Linked DNA regions of Homo sapiens. The protein of the gene in region 4 purifies or fractionates together with the protein of the main gene of each other region. This does not show direct contact. Each region holds a gene or a part of one and is shown on either strand. Other genes may lie near its edges. The genes, in order: POLR2J2, NEDD1, TANGO6 and GPN2.

Region 1 (4,176 bases), on a different chromosome or scaffold from region 4:
TAAGTAGCGGGTGTTTTTCCTTGACACTAACGCTACCGCTAGACCACGGTGGGCTTGGCAACAGGTGTCTTCCCAGATGCTGGCGTTACCGCTAGACCAAGGAGCCCTCTGGTGGCCCTGTCCGGGCATAACAGAAAGCTTGCACTCTTGTCTTCTGGTCACTCCTCACTGTCCCCTCAGCTCCCATCTCTGTATGGCCTGGTTTTTCCTAGGTTATGATTGTAGAGCGAGGATTATTATAATACTGGAATAAAGAATAATTACTACAAACTAATGATTAATGATTCATATATAATCATATCTAAGATCTATATCTAGTATAACTATTCTTATTTTATATATTTTATTATACTGGAACAGCTCGTGCCCTCGGTCTCTTGCCTCGGCACCTGGGTGGCTTGCTGCCCACATCCACCAAGTGCACTTTGGGAGGCTGAGGCTGGAGGACTGCTGGAGGCCAGGAGTTCAATACCAGCCTGGGCAACATAGGGAGACCCCCCCCCCACCATCTCCAAAAATAAAAAAAAAAATAGCTAAGTGTGATGGCACATGCCTGCAGTCCTAACTATCGGGAGGCTGAGGCAGGAGGATCTCTGGAGCCCAGGAGTTGGAGGCTGCATGATGGCGCCACTGTACTTCAGCCTGGGCGACAGAGGGAGACGCTGTCTCTAAATAATAATAATAATATATAAAAAGATATACGTAACCCTACGGGCTCCCCTCTCACTGCTGTATACACCTGCCTCCTTCTGCATCCCTCACCCAATTGTCCCTCCCGGCTAACAAGCCAGCTGCACCCCCCAGGCAGAGGTCCTGCAGCAGTCGGTATAGGCAGCCTGGGCAGGGGGCTTGTCATAGATCTGCCTCTGGCCACGAGATCTTCTGCTCCCCCTACGGCTGCTAGCCGCAGCTGTCCACTACCCCTTAGCTTTATTCTCTCTATTCAGGGGCCTCCTGCTGCGCACTCCAAGGGGGTGCACGTTTCCAAAGAGAGATCAAGGGACATGGGGAAAGGAGAAAGGTACAGCTTGAGGTTCCCGCTCAGCCAGGACTAGGAGGCCTCTGTAGGGGCAGAACAGCCCTGCTGGCGCTCTGAGCATGCGCCGAAAAGCGCCCACGGGGAAAGCCATGCCGGGGTGCGGGGTGCGGGGTGGGGGGGAGCGGTGCGCTCGCCACTGACGCATGCGCAGAGGCACTGGTCTCTCTCGGGGTTTTCTCGCGCCTGCGCAAGATCCTCCAGCCCAACGGGGGGCGATGAGCCGATCCTTGGGCGGGTTTGCCCCGCCGGAGTAATCCGGAAGAGGCCTCTTATTAGGGCTCTGGTGGCGGCGGTGGCGGACACTTGGGGTCTGGACGCAACGGCGGCGGGAGCATGAACGCCCCTCCAGCCTTCGAGTCGTTCTTGCTCTTCGAGGGCGAGAAGTAAGTGACGCCGGCTGCGGAGGGCCTAGGTGCGCGGGCCTGCGGCTGTCGCATTCTGGGGTGTCTCCTGCCCATCTCTTGCCCCGGGAGGGAAACAGCTTTTGCTTGATCGTCTGCTCGGCCTGTGTCAGCCAAATTTAAGGCCGTTCCGCGAGGCAGTCGCGAGTGTGTCCATGTTGCAGATGAGGACACTGAGGCTTGGAGGCGAGCAAGTTGCCCCGGACACAGGAAGTGGCGGCGCTTGTATTCGAACCCAGAGTGTCTGGTTCTCCATAGCCCTTTTCCTCTGGGATCTGGCAGCTTCCTCTTTTTGTCTCTCGCCCGCCACCTCCATCCTTCATCCCCTCCGATCTGTCAGCGGCCTGCGTAAAAGCCGCAGTGGCTCCTCGCTGCCTGCGGGTTGAAGGAGTCCAGGGGAGAGAGCTTGGGCTCACTCTGTATCTGTGGGCGAGTGGCTTGATCTGTCGGAGGCCCTGTTTCCTCATCTGGAAAATGAGTTTATTACTGTACTTAAACGTGGGATTCAGGCCGGGTGCGGTGGCTGACACCTGTAATCCCAGCACTTTGGGAGCCCGAGGCGGGCGGATCACCTGAGGTCGGGAGTTCAAGACCAGCCTGACCAACATGGAGAAACCCTGTCTCTACTAAAAATACAAAATTAGCCGGGCGTGGTGGCAGATGCCTGTAATCCCAGCTACTCAGAAGGCTGAGGCAGGAGAATCACTTGAACCTGGGAAGTGGAGGTTGAGGTGAGCGGAGATCACGCCATTGCACTCCAGCCTGAGCAACAAGAGCGAAACTCCGTTTCAAAAAACAAAAAAAGGGATCTGGCCAGGTGCGCTGGTTCACGCTTTTAATCCCGGCACTTTGGGAGGCTCAGGTGGGAGGATTGCTTGAGCTGAGCACAGGAGTTCCAGGCTGCAGTGAGCTTTGATCGCATCACTGCACTCCAGCCTGGGCGACTGAGCGCAATCCTGTCTCAAAATAAAAAGAATTGGATGAGGTAATTTGTGTAAAACTCTTGGTCCAAAGCTCAGCCCCTGGAAAACCTCATAACCATTGGCTCTTATTGTTCCCAGGTTGGCGTGCAGAGGTCTTGGTCTGGCCCTTGCCAGCCACTTCGGCCTCCTTTAGAGCAGACTCTCAACTGGGGACCATTTGGCCCCACAAGGGACATGTGGCAATAACTGAGAACATTATTGGTTGTCAAAGGGGGTTATGACTGGAATCTACTGGGTAGAGGTCAGGGATGCTGCTGATGTCCTACAATGTCCACAAGACAGCACCCCACAGGAAAGAATGATGCACCCTAAAATGTGTGTGGTGTCAGCCTGGAGAAACCACCTTAGAAAAAAGGATATTCAACTTGATACCTCTCACCTGTGTGAGATTTTACTGTCAGCATAGTTGCCCTCAAATTGAGTGTGCATTAGAATCACCTGAAGGGCTTCTTAAACCATAGATCCCTGCGCCCCACCTCCAGAGTTCTGGGTCCAGTAAGTGGGAGGTGGGAGACTCTTAACAAGTTCCCAGGGGATTCTGATGCTGCTTATCTGGGAACTGCACTCTGAAAACCCCTTGTCTTGGAAAATCCAATGGAAGTTTCCTGTCTTTGTCCATCTAAGCGTTCACTAAAATCATAGTAAATGCCAGAGCATGACTTGTTTTGGGGAATGGATGGAAGGACTGCACACTCCAGCCAGGGGGATGGTTGCTTTCGGAACTCACAGGGTCAGGACCAGCCTCACCGTGTAACTTCAGGGCCTCTCTTCTTCACCTTTTGGTTGCTTCATTATGTTGGCGTAAGAAGAAAGGAACAGGCCAGGCATGATGACGTGCGCCTGTGGTCCCAGCTACTCAGGAGGCTAAGGCGGGAGGATCACTTTAGCCGAGGAGTTGGAGGCTGCAGTGAGCTATGATCACACCACTGCACTCCAGCCTGGGCAGCAGGAGAGATCATTTGAGGCGAGGAGTTCAAGACCAGCGAGGACAACAAGGCAAAACCCCATCTCTACCGGAAAAAAAAAAGGAGGAATTCAGAAAAGGCCAAGGTTCCATAGACCTGGGGTAGCAGGAAGTAGGGGACCGGGTTGGCGAGGCCTTTATGGGATGAAGAGATTGAGAAAGGCCTTCAGGAAGAGGCAGAGCTTATTTTTCCTTTTTATTTTTATATTTTTGATACAGAGTTCCACTCTGTTGCCCAGGCTGGAGTGCAGTGGCATGATCTCGGCTCACTGCAACTCCACCTCCCAGGTTCAGGTGATTCTCCTGCCTCAGTCTCCCAAGTAGCTAGGACTACAGGCATGGATCACCACACTCAGCTAATTTTTTTTTTTTCTTTGTATTTTTAGTACAGACAGGGTTTTGCCATGTTGGGCAGGCTGGTCTTGAACTTCTGACCTCAGGTCATCCATCCACCTCAGCCTCCCAAAGTGTTGGGATTACAGACACGAGCCACCACACCTGGCCGGGAGGAGACAGGGTTTAGACTCAGGGTGGGAGGAGGGGAGCCCCTGCTCCTCATCTGTGGCCTCTGTGTCTTCCTAGGATCACCATTAACAAGGACACCAAGGTACCCAAGGCCTGCTTATTCACCATCAACAAAGAAGACCACACACTGGGAAACATCATTAAATCGTAAGTTTCCCGTCACAGGCTCTCAGGGGCTATGTTTAATGGGCCCCTCTGGGCAAAGCACAAGTTCCAAGTCTTCCTCAGTCTCTCTGAGCTACAGGAAGTCCTTCTGGGGGCTTG
Region 2 (3,567 bases), on a different chromosome or scaffold from region 4:
GTTTTTGCATCTACATTTGGGTATTTGTGGATCTGAACTGAAAATTAAAGACAGAACTTGAAGGCAGAAGCAAGTTGGGGAGGAGATAAAAAATTGCCCAATATCTCCATCTTACTAATGTACTCTCCATATCTTCCTTCCTCTCTGTGTGTGTGATGAAAATTACATTTCCTAAACAGACATAGTAAAGTTACCTAGATTGAACTTTTCTAAGCTTTTTATGTTTCTGATTGACACCTTCCCTGTCTTGGTGAGCTCCTCAATGTGGATAAAATAAAATGAGGGAGTGAAGACTGTAAACTAGGGTTTCTGAACCCTGTGCTATTGACTTTTTGGGGCAGAAAATTTGTTGTGGACCTTTCCTGTATGTTGTACCACGTGGAGGTTTATTGGTCTTCACCCGTTAGGTACCAATAGCCTCTAGTTGTGACAACCCAAAACGTTTCCAGAATTGCCTGAATCACTCCCAGTAGAGAACCACTGCTGTGACCACAGTGCTCCTATCACCTTTTATGTGAAAATGTTTTATGTAATTGGTATGTTAGAAATTTTCTTTTGTGAAACTCATACGCTATTTCTTAACAAATTAAGATTTAACATTTATCTGATTTTTATCAACACCAAAGTATTCTACTTTCTGATAAAAAAATCAAAGCTTTAAAATGTGACTGGTTCAGGAACAAAAATATTAAAAGTTTTATATGACTTACTATTCTTGCATGTATATAACAAGAAGGACAAATTTTCTTACTGAATTAAATTTACCTCCTTATCATTCCTTGATTTTGCAGTAAAACAAATTACTTTGGTACTCTGTTAATCAAACTCATGGTGAAGTGACTACATTTTTGAAGGACTTTCCAGATGTGTAATAGGGAAAATATTTTAAAGAGAGCGACAAGTATATGAAGTTGCTGTTCTCTATTTTTAGATTTTCATTATGTTTAGAGCTTAATTTTCCCTCTTACTATATAAGAGAAAGGTAGCAATTTGTAGTAAGATTATTTTTTGGTTGACTTTTGTTTTAAGTTTTACTAGGAGTTGGCATTTACTGATGTGCTACTTAATAGTCTAACAACAAAACTGATGTAGCTATGAGATAGTGTTGTATGACTTTTGGAAATTGGTCTTACAGTTTTCTTGCATGAGCAGATGTGCACTGAAAGCCTTCATACAGTCTTATTCTTAATAAGGCTTTGATCACTTCCATGGAGGTTAATTACTGAAGAACAAGGAGTTCCCAGCCTTAGCAACTTGGGGTCCACATAGTATAGATTCCAAGAATGGGGTTAATGTGAGACACCAGAGAGATTAGTTTTTTGTTTCTTGTCCTTTAACTTACGTTCCTCACTTTCTCATGATTTCTAAAACTACAAGAGAAATAAAAAAGAACTAGATTACCCACCCACATTATGTTTCAGTCCTTTTTTTTCTATATTCTAAGGAGAAAAGTAGTGGTAAACAGGAAGAAGTCAAGGAAAGGGAAATGGTTTTTCTCGCTATGGTAATATCTAGGTAGGAATGATTTGATTTGCATCATGTATCATAATAAAATTACAGTCTATGCTCTGTTTACAAAATACCTGAAAGTTATACAGAACATTCAAAAGTTAATGCAGTTAGGGATTCTGAGTGTCTAATTAACCTTTCTCCATTGCTTTTACTCACAGATTTTAATTGCTAAAAAGCACAGATTTAAACTTCTGATATTTTAATTTGTTATGGCTCTCAAAATCAGACTCTTATTCTTAGTTATATTATTGTATTTAATCATTTTAGTTTTAAAATAGTTACTGTTTTGTGTTTACTGATTGTTCCATTTACAATTCGTGTAAAAGAAGGTAAATAAAATTACATTTTATTTAAAAATTAAAACTCATAACACAATTCCTATTTAACCATACATATTTATAAAATATTTGCAAGTTACTGTAATAGTCATTCTTAATTTAAGATTGAAACATTCTATCACAAAAATTCATGTTCTGGGAAAATATCAGGCCTTTTTTTTTTTTAAATAGAAAAATAGGAGACTAGTGTGGATGTTTGCTTCCTAGTTTAGATTGTTACCAAGCACTAGGTTAATAAATATCTTGAACAGTTTCTGTAGATGAAAAGGTTGATTGATATTTGCTGATGCTGCTTTTATCATGCTCTCATTCTTGAAGGATAAAATTAGCCCTTCTGGCCTACTCTTTGAAAACAGAGTAGTATTTCACGTGGGTTAAATAGCTTTTGAGTGATAGCAGAGCCAGAAAGAAGGCTAGTTCTTCCCTGCAGTAGTAGCAAAGAGAATTAGTCTTAGTAATTATTAATAGTAATGTGAGCCATTTTTGAAAGCTACTCTGTAAGCTATACTCATTGCTTGTCTTCTTAGTGTGTTAGCTTTTATAATCGCAATTCTTATAATAGTCTAGTGCTATAGATGTTCATGGATTGTTTGATGCTCCATAACTCCTCATTTAGATAACTTTTTAGTAACAGCATCTTCCAGTGGCGACAAAATAGTTGTCTCAAGTTGCAAATGTAAACCTGTTCCACTTTTAGAGCTTGCTGAAGGGGTAAGTGATTTTTTTTTTTTTTAAACTTTTAAAAATCTTAGTTTTGCTTGACTGGCAATTGCTTATTGTGGTGCTTGCGACTAAATATAAAGGTTTTTAAAAGCATTATTTTTAACTTAAGCTCAAAATAATATAGTAACACTTAAAAATGAGATATGTGTACTTACTAAAGTATTTTTAGGTAAAATAGTTTTGAATATAGGGGAACAATTGAAGACTTGAATTTTGTTGACTAGGCACTTCATTTCTCCATTTTCCCTCAGTGGGAGAGGATCTCTGTTGCTGCTATTTTAGGACGATATCCCACATAGGTTACTAGGTTGACCTGAGCATATAAACTCTAATGACACAGCACTGCTTTACTGATCTTGGGCTCAGGACCATCAGGAACAGACTCACAGCTGATGGTAGCTCTCTGCTTCAGATTCTGTCCACCTGTACTGAGGGGCCTGTCTGAGCCTCCCCCATACTCTCCTTAAACAGGTTGGCTTTGTCAAAATGAGCTTAGGTCCCAGGGCGTTTAAATGAAGCTCTCACTACGTACTGTTGCCTTATCCTTTTTTTTTTTTCTTTTGAGATGGAGTCTCGCTCTGTTGCCCAGGCTGGAGTGCAATGGTGCAATCTTAGCTCACTGCAACCTCCGCCTCCCCAGTTCAAGCGATTCTCCTGCCTCAGCCTCTCAAGTGGCAGGGATTACAGGTGCCCACCACCACGCCTGGCTAATTTTTGTATTTTTAGTAGAGACGGGGTTTCACCATGTTGGCCAGGCTGGTCTTGAACTCCTGACCTCATGATCCGCCCGCCTCAGCCTCCCAAAGTGCTGGGATTACAGGCATGAGCCACCACACCCAGCCTATCCTTTTGTTTTATAAGTTAATCCCTCTGATTAAGGATAATACTGGCTTCTTCATTTCTAGTCACACACTCTTTGAAAGCTATTTCTTTTTTAAATAAGATAAGATTTAAATAAAAAGATATGGTAGTTGATAGCTTTTTTTTTTAATTT
Region 3 (3,567 bases), on a different chromosome or scaffold from region 4:
TATATAATTTTCACTTCCACTTTCCAGAAGAAATCCCTTTCTTCCCGTTTTCTCTGTGATCCCTTCCAGATCTATGGTGCACTTGCATACTGACTGGCCACTTTAGATCATGTAGTTAAGAACAGCCTTATCTTTTCAAGGGAGACTGCGTAGGGTATTGGGTGAGAGTGTGGGCTCTGATCCCAGTTTCTTGAGTTCACATCTTACTATCTTCCAGTCTGTGACCTTGGGCATGTTACTTAACCGTTCTGTTTCCACCTGTTTAAAATGTAGATAATAATAGTCATTATATCACAAGGATATGAATGTGTGTGTGTGTGTTTTATCTTAGAAAAGAACCTGTATATGATAAGTGTTCAATAAATGTTAGGTATGATTATTCAACAAATGGTATTCAGTGCTGGACCCAGGCAATACACTGATTACACCATGAGCAAGATTTGATCCCTGCCCTTTTTTCTCAGAATATGTTTCCTGGTGCTCAGGTCATATTGAAATTTGCTATGTTAATTTGGGTTTGACATTTTTTATTTCATTTTGTAGTTGAAGTCAAGTGATTTTGCTGTTCTGAAGCAGTTGTTGCCTCTGTTGGAGAAGGTATCCAACACATACCCTGATCCGGTCATCCAAGAACTCGCTGTTGATCTCCGCATCACCATCTCTACCCATGGAGCCTTTGCCACTGAGGCCGTCAGCATGGCTGCCCAAAGTACACTGAACAGAAAAGATCTGGAAGGGAAAATAGAAGAGCAGCAACAAACCAGTCATGAAAGACCCACTGATGTAGCTCATAGCCACCTTGAACAACAGCAGAGCCATGAGACAGCCCCCCAGACAGGCCTGCAGTCAAATGCTCCAATCATTCCTCAAGGAGTCAATGAGCCCAGCACTACTACAAGTCAGAAATCTGGAAGCGTAACCACAGAACAGCTCCAAGAGGTTCTTTTGTCAGCTTATGACCCTCAAATTCCAACACGGGCTGCTGCCCTGCGTACTCTTTCCCACTGGATAGAGCAGAGAGAAGCAAAAGCCCTTGAGATGCAAGAGAAGCTTCTCAAGGTGAGTAGAACACACTGTAAAGACACATGGGCACAGGGTGGGGCATTCATTCAACTCAAGTATTTTTGGAGCCTGGACTATGTGTCAAGTGCTGTTCTGGACCACCCTCCAGAAATTTGTGAATTTTGTGAGGAGGCAACACTTAGACACAGGAAAGATTTATTTAGACACAGGAAAGACTTAAACTCCTCAAATGAATATGAACTGAGTGCCAATTTTTTTTTTTTTTTTTTTTTTTTGAGATGGAATCTCGCTCTGTCCCCCAGGCTGGAGTGCAGTGGTGCAATCTCGGCTCACTGCAAGCTCCGCCTTCTGGGTTCACACCATTCTCCTGCCTCAGCCTCCCGAGTAGCTGGGACTACAGGTGTCTGCCACCACCCCCGGCTAATTTTTTGTATTTTTAGTAGAGACGGGCACCATGTTAGCCAGGATGGTCTCGATCTCCTGACCTCGTGATCCACCTGCCTCGGCCTCCCAAAGTGCTGGGATTACAGGCGTGAGCCACCACACCCATCCTTCAAAATTTTTGCATGCAAGAAATGCTGTGGGCAGTCAGGAAAAAGAGAAAGTTGAAATCTTCTGGAGGATGTAGGCCTTAATATGGCCATAACAAACTAGTAAAGTTTGAGCAGATGAAAGAGGGGTGGGATAGCTTGAACAAATTCCCAGAGATGGGAAAGTACCTTTTGTGATAAATAGGTCTGCTTCAACACTGTGACCCAGCCCAGATAAGCCACCTGTTTTCTCTGGGCATCTTTAGTGGGGCGTTGGGCAAAACTGGGTCTCCTCCCCTCTTCTCTCCCTTCATCGTGGTGAAATAGCTGTTTTTTGTTTTGTTTTGTTTTGTTTTTTTGAGACAGGGTCTCGCTCCGTCGCCCAGGCTGGAGTGCAGTGGTGCGATCTCAGCTCACTGCAATTTCCACCTCCTGGGTTCAAGTGATTCTTCTGCCTCAGCCTCCCAAGTAGCTGGGATTACAGGTGCCCACCAACACACCCAGCTAATTTTTGTACGTTTAGTTGAGATGAGGTTTCACCATGTTAGCCAAGCTGGTGTTGAACTCCTCACATCAAGTGATTCACCTGCCTCGGCCTCCCAAAGTGCTGGGATTACAGGCATGAGCCACCGCGCCTGGCCTTAAATATCCTTTTATACACCTATTTGAAGGTGAATTCAATGAACATCTTGGAATTTTTTTTAGCTTAATTAAACCTTCTTCTGCTGTACATAATTGGTCACCAAGTCCTGTCAATTCTTTTTTCAAAGAAGTCTTTCAAATGTATCTTATCCTCTTTATTTCCATGGCCATTACCCTAAATTAAGCTTCCCTTGCTTACTCCATAAAAGATTCCCTACCTTCAAAACTGGCCGTCTTCCTAACTGGGGTAATTTTAGGCTCTCCGTACATACTTCACATGTAGAGACCAGCAGCATCAAGTTGATGTCAAGAATTACTGTGCCAACGAAGAACACAGCATTATATATGGAGCAGACACTTCCGTCTTCCTTTCTCTGGCTCTCATGTTGGGGCCTAAACCTAACATATCATGTAATATCTTCCAGATAAGCTGTACTCACTGTAGTTGATACCCCTGATAGGTTCCTAAATTGTAAGATATTTTGAGAGTAATTTGTTACTAATATCAATTAAAGTGCTGAAATTTACAAGATTTTCAAAAATAAATTAGAACAGATTCAAAGTTATCTCAATAATAACATCTCTATCTCACTTGCACTTCCATATGCTTTGTGAGTACAAGAGAAAAGGATCAAATTGCAGCAAATGTGCCATCCATTGCACATAACCCCAAACCTTGTCTCTTGTGTGTCACACCCCGTAGTCTGTCATGCCATATGTGAGAATGTTATTCACCATGGCTGTCATGGAAAAATGTTGAGGATTGTTCTTCCATCGGTTTCCAGGACTACTGCTGGAAGAATACAAGTATCTCCCCCAGTCTCTATACTTTTTTAATGGTTATAAAAATGAGACTTAAGCATATATGCCATTTCCCCCACAAAACTCTGTCAGACCAGTTTCTACCCAAGAAAAACAAGAAGCGAAGCATTTACTCCTTTGAGCTGCTGATAAGGGAGCCTCTTAAATCTTCCTTGTTCTTTGTAAATCTTATCACTGCTGTATTTTGTGGTTCCAGATATTCTTGGAAAACTTGGAACATGAAGACACTTTTGTATATCTATCTGCAATTCAGGGTAAGTCAGTCCTGGTTAAAGGACTTTAAGTATGTGGACCAGAGACTGTATCATGTTTATTTGCACAAAATCTCTAAAGTCCTAGGGCCAGGAGACTACTGGTCATTTTGTCCGTCTTCCTGCCTCCTAGCTAGGACACTTTAAGTCATAATAATAATATTCCTGAAGGGTTTCCAAAGAGTCCCTATAGAGTTTCAGTGTCTCATAATGATGAGGAAGTTTTTATTAATGTTTACATATTCTGTAGATTAAATCGTATTTCCTCTAATTCAAGGAGGTAAAGAATGACTCACACA
Region 4 (3,567 bases):
TTACTTCTTTTAGTGAGAAATGATTTATAAAACTGAATCAGGGACCTCAGCATCATCTAGTCCTTATTTTACATTAAGAAATAACTGGCTCAGAAAAGGAAAGTGATTTACCCAGGAGGCTACCCTGCTAGAATGTAGCATTTATTCAGTTTAACCATTTACAGAGTCTTTGCAGTGTATGTGCCAGGTCCTGAGGGTATGACCTGACTATGAGCTCTGTGAGGTGAGGACGACCATGCACAGTTCTTGGTACATACTTGTTATCATTATTTGCAACTTTTTTTTTTTTTTTTTTTTTTGAGACAGAGTTTCGCTCTTGTTGCCCAAGCTGGAGTGCAATGGTGTAATCTCGGCTCACTGCATCCTCCGCCTCCTGGATTCAAGCGATTCTCCTGCCTCAGCCTCCCGTGTAGCTGGGATTACAGGCATGTGCCACCACGTCCGGCTAATTTTGTATTTTTTTTTCTTTTTTTTTGAGACGGAGTCTTGCTGTGTCGCCCAGGCTGGAGTGCAGTGGCGCGATCTCGGCTCACTGCAAGCTCCCCCTCCTGGGTTCACGCCATTCTCCTGCCTCAGCCTCCTGAGTAGCTGGGACTACAGGCACCCGCCACCACGCCCAGCTAATTTTTTGTATTTTTAGTAGAAACAGGGTTTCATCGTGTTAGCCAGGATGGTCTCGATCTCCTGACCTTGTGATCCGTCCATCTCCCAAAGTGCTGGGATTACAGGCTTGAGCCACCGCACCTGGCCTAATTTTGTATTTTTAGGAGAAATGGAGTTTCACCATGTTGGCTGGTCTTGAACTCCTGACCTCAGGTAATCACCCACCTCGGCTTCCCAAAGTGCTGGGATTACAGGCATGAGCCACCGTGCCCAGCCTGTTTGCAGTTATTGATCAAGCACTTCTCTGTACCAGACACTGGGGTTTATAGCATTTAATCTTCATAACAGTCCTATGAAGTAGATACCTGCCTATATAGCTAGTAAATAGCAGAGCCAGCAGGTAAAACCAAATGCTTTTTTTCTTAGTAACTTCATTTTACTGTGTCAAGAAATATTTGAGTGCATGAGTGCACAAAGGAAAAAAGGAAAAAGGAACCTCGTCCTCAGGTCTTTAGCCTGATACTGGTTGCTCCTGAACACTGGTTTCTCTCTTTAGCCTTCAACCTGGACTACTACACAGAGGTTCTGGACCTCTCCTACCTGCTTGACCACCTGGCTTCTGACCCTTTCTTCCGCCACTACCGCCAGCTCAATGAGAAGCTAGTGCAGCTCATCGAAGACTATAGCCTTGTCTCCTTTATCCCTCTCAACATCCAGGTACTAGGGGCTAAGACGGGACTCTTGACAGTGCATGGGATTCACCAAGCCAAAAGCACAGGAAGCTTTGAGGGCTTAAAGAATGGTCTTTGCCGGCTGGGCGCGGTTGCTCAAGCCTCTAATCCTAGCACTTTGGGAGGCCGAGGTGGGCAGATCATGAGGTCAGGAGATCGAGACCATCCTGGCTAACCCAGTGAAACCCCGTCTCTACTAAAAATACAAAAAATTAGCTGGGCGTGGTAGCAGGTGCCTGTAGTCCCAGCTACTCAGGAGGCTGAGGCAGGAGAATGGCGTGAACCCGTGAGGCAGAGCTTGCAGTGAGCCGAGACCACGCCATTGCTCTCCAGCCTGGGCGACAGAGTGAGACTCCATCTCAAAAAAAAAAAAAAAAAAAGAGTGGTCTTTGCCCTGGGTTGAGTATCACTGAGAGTAACCTTAGTTTCAGGACCAGGGGCTGCTGTAGGGGCAGAATTCCAGTAAAGAGAGTGGACCAAACTTTTGCCCTGTCTATTTTGTGTTGCTGGATCCTCTCTTCACATGTTCTGTCCTCTGTGAAAATGGGTGAGTTCAGAAAGTCATCAGCAAGAAAGTTCACCAGGACCAGGGACAAGTCTCTTAAGCCCTTTCAACTGGGCAACTGTCTGTTGACTTTGCAAAGTGGTACCCAACCCCTGTGCCTCTCACCTTTACCCTGCAGAGATAACCTGGGAGACGCAGGTGCATGTTAGATTCCTTTCTGCAGTGGGTGGACTTGAGCTAACTTGTCTCCTCCCTTCTAATGCCACACTCTTCTGATATGAGGAGATGAACTCTATAATATCAATCACAACAATTACCTCTTATTTATGGCTTTCTGTGCTGGGCACTGTGCTAAGGACTACACATACATAATTTTGCTTTGTCCTTCCCACCATGTGATATATGGACTGTTCTTATCACTGTATGTGGATGAGGAAACAGTTATAGTTTTTTTTTGTTTTGTTTTGTTTTTTGTGACGGAGTCTCACTCTGTCACCCAGGCTGGAGTGCAGTGCGTTATCTTGGCTCACTGCAACCTCTGCCTCCTGGGTTCAACCGATTCTCCTGCCTCAGCTTCCCAAGTAACTGGGATTACAGGCATCCATCACCATGCCCAACTAATTTTTGTATTTTCAGTAGAGACAGGGTTTCACCATGTTGGCCAGGCTGCTCTTGAACTCCTGACCTTAAGTGATCTACCTGCCTTGGCCTCCCAAAGTGCTGGGCTTTACAGGTGTGAACCACCGTGCCTGGCCCAGTTATAGATTTAAAACATGCATATTCATTGGATGTCTACTTAAGAGAAGTACTGTGCCAGGCACTGGGAATACTGCGACAGATGACCTGGCCCTAAGGGGTGTTTAGTTGAGTAGGGGAGGCAGGTGAGTTAATAGGCGTTTATTACATGGCAGGGATACCATGTACAATAGGTGTAAACCCAGGGGACTGTGGATATGCATAGGGGAGCTTATCTGTTCTAATCTGAGTGAGTTGGTGGTCAGGAAACATGAGATTTATCCAGCCTTTGGGGACATGTAGAACTACTCCAGGCCAAGAAAGCTACAGGTACAGAGGCAAGATGGAGGAAGGTGTATTTAGAGATTGCAAGCAGTTTTACATACTTCTGTTTCACTCACAGAACTGTTTCTCTCCTCCCTGCTCAGGACAAGGAGAGCATCCAGCGAGTCCTGCAGGCTGTGGATAAAGCCAATGGATACTGTTTCAGAGCCCAAGAGCAGCGAAGCTTGGAAGCCATGATGTCTGCCGCAATGGGAGCCGACTTCCATTTCTCTTCGTATCCTTGCCAGCTTCCTGGCCATAGCAGAGAGGGTGAGACATGGGACTCAAGAATGGCCACAGGAGGTGCAGTCATCAACCTTGTGGATGACCAATTTCTTTTTTTTTTTTTTTTTTTGAGATGGAGTCTTGCTCTGTCGCCCAGGCTGGAGTGCAGTGGCACGATCTCAGCTCACTGCAAGCTCTGCCTCCCGGGTTCACGCCACTCTCCTGCCCCAGCCTCCTGAGTAGCTGGGACTACAGCCACCCACCACCACGCCCAGCTAATTTTTTGTATTTTTAGTAGAGACGGGGTTTCACTGTGTTGGCCAGGATGGTCTTGATCTCCTGACCTTGTGATCCACCCAATTTCTTTTTTCTTTTTTTTTTTTGAAAGGGAGTTTCGCTCTTGTTGCCCAGGCTGGATCGCACAATGGCGCAATCTTGGCTCTG

Evidence for each region.
Region 1: the proteins of GPN2 (region 4) and POLR2J2 purify together in Homo sapiens (co-immunoprecipitation; one large-scale study listed by IntAct). This does not show direct contact.
Region 2: the proteins of GPN2 (region 4) and NEDD1 purify together in Homo sapiens (affinity purification with mass spectrometry; one large-scale study listed by BioGRID and IntAct). This does not show direct contact.
Region 3: the proteins of GPN2 (region 4) and TANGO6 purify together in Homo sapiens (affinity purification with mass spectrometry; one large-scale study listed by BioGRID and IntAct). This does not show direct contact.

What each region holds. Positions count from the first base shown.
Region 1 is NC_000007.14:102,668,798-102,672,973, reverse strand, and holds the start of POLR2J2 (DNA-directed RNA polymerase II subunit RPB11-b1), read left to right. Parts: upstream 1-1,310; 5' UTR 1,311-1,372; coding exon 1,373-1,422; intron 1,423-3,969; coding exon 3,970-4,059; intron 4,060-4,176. UniProt on the Homo sapiens protein: DNA-dependent RNA polymerase catalyzes the transcription of DNA into RNA using the four ribonucleoside triphosphates as substrates. Component of RNA polymerase II which synthesizes mRNA precursors and many functional non-coding RNAs.
Region 2 is NC_000012.12:96,910,257-96,913,823, forward strand, and holds part of NEDD1 (protein NEDD1), read left to right. Parts: intron 1-2,466; coding exon 2,467-2,561; intron 2,562-3,567. UniProt on the Homo sapiens protein: Required for mitosis progression. Promotes the nucleation of microtubules from the spindle.
Region 3 is NC_000016.10:68,927,025-68,930,591, forward strand, and holds part of TANGO6 (transport and Golgi organization protein 6 homolog), read left to right. Parts: intron 1-543; coding exon 544-1,059; intron 1,060-3,213; coding exon 3,214-3,271; intron 3,272-3,567.
Region 4 is NC_000001.11:26,883,726-26,887,292, reverse strand, and holds part of GPN2 (GPN-loop GTPase 2), read left to right. Parts: intron 1-1,159; coding exon 1,160-1,320; intron 1,321-3,002; coding exon 3,003-3,133; intron 3,134-3,567. UniProt on the Homo sapiens protein: Small GTPase required for proper localization of RNA polymerase II and III (RNAPII and RNAPIII). May act at an RNAP assembly step prior to nuclear import.